Linked DNA regions of Homo sapiens: region 1 is linked to region 2. Evidence: fine-mapped QTL for protein levels in blood plasma. A gene starts in region 2. The other region holds a variant in brackets. All regions are shown on one strand. Distances are between the middles of the regions.

What was found. A credible set is the group of variants that fine-mapping cannot tell apart. PIP is the posterior inclusion probability: the model's chance that the variant is causal. The UK Biobank Pharma Proteomics Project read protein levels with antibody pairs (Olink). The fine-mapping took linkage between variants from a reference panel, not from the people measured, so its PIPs are less certain.
Region 1: its variant is the best candidate, but not a certain one, in a credible set for the plasma level of the AMBP protein (UK Biobank, PIP 0.53).

What each region holds. Positions count from the first base shown.
Region 1 is chr9:114,064,867-114,067,779 of GRCh38, forward strand. The region is part of intron 6 of AMBP (alpha-1-microglobulin/bikunin precursor); the gene reads right to left. Among named protein-coding and RNA genes, the nearest start is that of AMBP, 12 kb to the right of the region's middle. The variant A/G (reference allele first, on the strand shown) is at 1,627.
Region 2 is chr9:114,076,578-114,079,490 of GRCh38, forward strand. AMBP (alpha-1-microglobulin/bikunin precursor) reads right to left here and starts at 1,723. Exons shown (of 10, transcript NM_001633.4): 1 at 1,516-1,723; 2 at 21-163. The coding sequence starts at 1,632.

The DNA.
Region 1 (2,913 bases), 12 kb before region 2:
CTAATACTTCTAAATCCAGAAGGAGAAAACTGAGGGGCACCCCATCCCTTTCCTTTCCTGACAGAGGAGTAGTGAACATGCCTTTTGGAGAGAAAGGAGTAAAAAGCAAAAATGGAGTTCACAGAATGGGAGGAATGGTAGTAAAAGTTCCAGGGCTATACAATTGAGTGCTCCAGGACATGTTGTCGTAGGATGGATTATATCACACCAGCCCACCTAGGGATAATGAGCCCCATCCAGAACATTCAGCAGTCCTTCCAAACAGAAGCAGAGGAAGGATGTTATGGATTGAACTGTGACCCCCAAAATTCATATACTGGGGTCCTAACCCCCCAGAACCTCAGAATGTGACCTTATTTGGAAATCAGATTGTTCAGATGCAATTAATTAAGATGAGGTTATTAGGGTGGACCCTAATCCAATATGAGTGGTGTCCTTATAAACGGGTGATTCGCACACATAGAGAACTCCCTGTGAAGATAAAGGTGGGAATTGGGATGATGTTTTTAACAAGCCAAGGAACACCAGAGACTGCCAGCAAACCACCAGAGGCCATGGGAGAGACACGGCACAGATTCTTTCTCGAAGCCCACAGAAGGAACCAACCCTACCAACAACTTGATCTTGGACTTCTGGCTTCCAGAACTGTGAGACAGCAAATCTGTGTTGTTTAAATCCCCAGCTTGTGGTTCTCTGTTACGGCAGCCCCCGGAAACACACAGACAGTATTCAGACCCGCATGTGCACCTCGGGGCAGTTCATTACCCCACCCCCACCCCCACCCTCACCATTCCCTTGGACTTTACAAAAGTTGATGAACATAAAACACCCAGATCTTACACTAAAGTAGGATGGGGCTAGGGGGAGGTGGGATTGGGCTCAAATTTGATGGGAAGAGGACCAAGGAGTAAATGACACCTCCCATTGTACCAGAACAAACAGAAAGTCTGGATAAAGCTGACGAAGAAGAAGCAAGATGAAGATAAATGGTACAGAAACTACCCAAACCCACCTCAGAAGTGAATAAAAAAATAAATAACCTGAATAAGAGAAAGAGCCCAGCTGTGGTGGACACCTTAATAAACTACCTGGATTTCCCTCAGCAATGGATGTACTTTCTCAGTCGCTGGCAGTGCTACTGTCAGACAGCCCCCAGGGGTCAGCCCCTTTTGGGGACTGTGGCAGCTAAAGGAGCCATCTTACCCAAGGTCATGCGCACCTCCCAGACTGATCAACACAGGGGTATTAGGGCTCAGCCCCTTTGCAGCATCTTGGGACGTCTCTGAAATGTCAGAGGTCCCTGTAGTGTTGGCTGAGGCATTGTAACTGCATCACAGCTGGACTGCTTCCTCTGCCCTATCCTGCCTTCATGTCTTCTCCCCTACAGGTGTTGGTCCTGGGGAACCCAACCTGTGATACCAGAAGAAAACAGAACTCAAGAAACAGAAGGAAATTCCTCAATGCCTTCAAGCTATAGAATTACTTAATCAGAACATGCATTTATGTGCACGTGTGTGTGTGTGTGTGTGTGTGTGTGTGTGTGTGTAGAGATGGGGTCTTGCTATGTTGCCCAGGCTGGTCTTGAACTCCTGGCCTCAAGCAGTCTTACTGCCTCAGCCCCGCAGA[A/G]TGCTGGGATTATACGCATGAGCAAAAACAACAGAATAAGATGAAAAGAGAAAATCCAAGCCTACAGAAACAAATTGAGAACCAAAACAACATAATTCAGAACCAGCAAATAAATTAGAAATAGAAATAGCAAGGAACAGAATGAAATGACGGTCTGCACAAAGGAATGACTGCTAAAAATGCAATGAATGTCATAGGAGAGAGACTAGTGATAATCCCAGTGAATGCAGATGGAAACGACAAAGAGATGAAAGCGACTGGGAAGAAACTAATAGATGTGGAAGGCAAAGATGCTCCTGGATGAGAGAACAAGTGTTCCCGAGGTAGCAAAACCCAACAAAAGGAAGGAAGATAAACTCAATGATATCAAGAGAGATTTCCCTCAAACACAGAAGAAATGTAATCTGTATATGAAAAGAGAACATTGAATTCCAGGATGTGTTGTTATTATTATTATTATTATTTTGAGACAGAGTCTTGCCCTGTCACCCAGGCTGGAGTGCAATGGCGCGATCACGGCTCACTGCAACCTCTGCCTCCCGGGTTCAAGTGATTCTACTGCCTCAGCCTTCCAAGTAGCTGGGACTACAGGCCTCAGCCACCACACCCAGCTAATTTTTGCATTTTTAGTAGAGATGGGGTTTCACCATGTTGGCCAGGATGGTCTCGATCTCCTGACCTCTTGATCTGCCCGCCTCACCTCCCAAAGTGCTGGGATTACAGGTGTGAGCCACTATGCCTGGCTCAGGATGTATATTTTAAATAGAGACAAGGTCTCACTGTTGCCCAGGCTAGAGTGCAGTGGCACAATCATAGCTCACTGTAACCTAGAACTCCTGGGCTCAAGCAATACTTCCTCCTCAGCCTCCCGATTTGCTGGGACTACAAGTGCCACCCACTGAGCTGGCTAATTTAAAACAAACAAACAAACAAACACACTTTTTGTAGAGATGGAATCTCACTATGTGGCCCAGACTGGTCTCAAACTCCTGGCCTCACGTGATCCTTCTGCCTCACCTTCCCAAAGTGCTGAGATTACAGGAATGAGCCACTGCACCCAACCCCCAATAAATTTTTAAATAGAATTTTCAACATCAAGACAGGTTTTGTTAAGATGTTGATTTTAATGATAAAGTTTTCCCAGGCATCTGAACAGAAGAAATAAATTGCCTACAAAGAGAAGAAATATCACACGGGTCTCGGGCTTTTTCATAGCAATAATCGGCGCTTGAGAACAATGGAGTAACATATACAAAGTTCTAAGGGAAGGAACACGCGACCCAAGAC
Region 2 (2,913 bases):
AGCCCCACCCTAGTGCTCACCGCCAACGAGTGCTGGTCATGCTGATCTCCGCCTCTGTAGCGCCCTCTCCCAGCACCAGCGTGCTCACTGTCATCCTGTCCATGATCTTCTTCAGCCAGGGGCAGGTGGAACCGATGGCCAGGTTGTACCACTTCCCATAGATCTAGGAGGCAGGTGAGCTCTGGGGGTCTGCATCAGTCTCAGACCTCAAAGCAGACCTGGCTGACATCTGCTCCCCACCCTCCACCTCCTCCTCTTCCTCCTCCTTCTCCTCAAAATGACTTATCCTTTTAAGGGATAATGTCTTACAACTAATCAGAGGCCACACACCTTCAAGGGAGGCCAGATCCCTAAGAGTGGCGTTTCAGGCATCACAGCGAACCCAGGAAGCAGGTGTGCGGCTGGGGTCCCAACCTGCCCTGCAGAAGGGCTAACTCTCTCAAGATGTGGGATCTGTCCATAGCTCCATCAACCACTGCTCCCCAAGAGCTGGAGTCCTGTCTTTTACTCCTCCAATGATGGGGTGCTCCCCACCTTGCAAGGCAGCCCACAGCCCCATGTTAGGAATTATTTCAAAAGTATAATGAACATGATGGGGTCATTCAGGATAGGCCTGCTTCCTCTTCCTCCTGAAAGTGCACGGGACAGCTGAAGGAGCCCTCAGGCTCCTACGGAACAGGCCAATGTGCCCCACACCCTTTGCGTCCCAGACTGCCACAGGGACCTGCTCCTCATTGCCCCTCTGCCACGACCTTTCCTTGTCCCTAAAAGTAAACAAAACCCACATGACACCACAGCTAGAAGGTTCTGAGACCCTTCATACAGACATGGAGACAGCCCCAGGTGGGCAAGGGTATTCTCAAAGCCACCCCGGGATTTAGGGCAGAGTGGGGGCTGGAAGGCAGCTCTGGCACTCCACACTCACAGGAGAGTGTCCTGCCCCAGTCCAGGTCTCTCCTTGTGCCCAAGCCTCTGAATGTCTCCCAACCCTAATCTCTGTCCTGCTTCACCTCTTCCCATAAGCCCCACATGCCCAACCCAAAAGCTGCTGGCCACATGCCCACGCTGTGCCACCCCAGGTGTCTGTCCACAGTCAGGCCAGGATGTGGGCAGGGGACACAGGAAGAGCTAAGGGAAAGATGCCACAGAGAGAGGGGAGTCATTAGAGAAGGAAGGGCTGGGAGGTCTGGGCAAAGCTAGGTGTCTGCACGGGGGCTGCAGGGCAGTGGCAGGCAGGACAAAGCCTTCTCTGGAGCAGGTTCCCATTAACACAAGGGTTCCCCTTGGAGCCCACGAGGACAGTGCAGAAGGTGAGGATGTTTGACTCATAGAATGTCAGCCAAGAGACCCACGGAATGGCAGGGGATAGAGCTGTACCTTCAAAGGATCCCATAATCCCAGATGATCTGAGTGGAAGCCTGAGACCCCGAGACAGGCCGCACTTGCCCAGCAGGGCCCATCTGCCTGGACTCCCCATCACCACATCCACCCTACCACAGAGAGCGGCAGCCTTACCCGAGAGATATTGAAGTTTTCCTGCACTTGGATGTTGTCGGGCGGCGTTGGCACAGGGCCAGCGCTCACCGCCAGGCAGGCGCTCAGCAGCAAGAGCAGGGCCCCGAGGCTCCTCATGGCTATGGGCTCCTCTGCCTTGGTATATCCCACAGGCTCGGTCTAGCAACAGAAGGGCCACCGCCTCCCTGCAACAGGGCAGCTGTGAACTGAGGCTGGGGAAGGGGCCTGTGGCTTGTAGTTGACCTCAGTGTTTGCCCTGCTCAGCTGGGGCCAATTACAGCCCCAAGGACAGCTCCAATCGATCCCTGTAGCCTGGCTGGGGTCAGCAGTACCAAGAGGCCGGGATGGCTGCTTCAGAAGAGGCATTGGCCAAGCACAATAGGGCCCTGGAGCACCAGGATTGGGCTCCGCCCCCCAAAAGTCCCCCACAGAGGGCATGCGAGGATGGGGAGCGACCTGGCCTTTCTGCTGAGTCATGCCATCTGGACCTCACAGCTCTGTGAGCCAGCAGGTCAAGCCTGATTGGGCCCATTTCTCACAGGAAAAAACTGAGGCCCAAGGAGAGGAAGTGACTTGCCAGAGACCTCAGGGAAGTCTATGGGCAGAGCCAAGACCAGAACCCAGGTATCCTGTCTCCAGAGTTCCTTCTCCAGCCCCCAGGCTTGCCCTAGCCTTTGCAAATAATAGAGACATTAACAATGATGACTGTTACGAGCTTCCGTTCACTGAGCACCTGCTATGTGCTGGCTGTGTACCAGGCACTTTACACGTGCCACAGGTGTCCAGTAAATCCCCACAACAAGCTTACGAAGTAGGTGCTATTTGTCCCCTTTACAGGCAGAGGAGTTGAGTCTCCAAGAAGTGAAGTGACTTGCCCAGAATCCCTCAGCCGGGAGTGGAGTAGCTGGGAAAGGCGTGGTAGAGACCATGGACGTGGGAGCCAGGCAGCCTACAGTGGCACTCACTGCTGTGTGACCTTGGGCAAGTCACTTTACCTTTCAGTGCCTTGGTTTCCTCATCTGTAAATGGGGATAATAATAGTTCCTAGCTCCTAGCATTGTTGAGTGAGCACCTGCAATGCGCTAGGACAGTACCCAGCATAGAGTAAGAGCTGAGTGTTTGTGGTGGGTTGAACAGTGCCCCCTCCAGAATCCATGTGCACCCCGAACCGCAGAATGAACCTGATTTGCAGATGTGATTAGTTAGATGAGGTTGAACTGGATGACAGGGGTTTTAAATCCAATGACCGGTATCTTTATAAGAGAATGGTGAGGGAGACTCAGACACAGGGACACAGAGAGAAGCACGGGGAAGATGTGGCGTGACGCCGAAGGCAGAGATGGGAGGGATGCAGTGACACGTCAAAAATCACCAAGGATTGATGGCAGCCACCAAAAG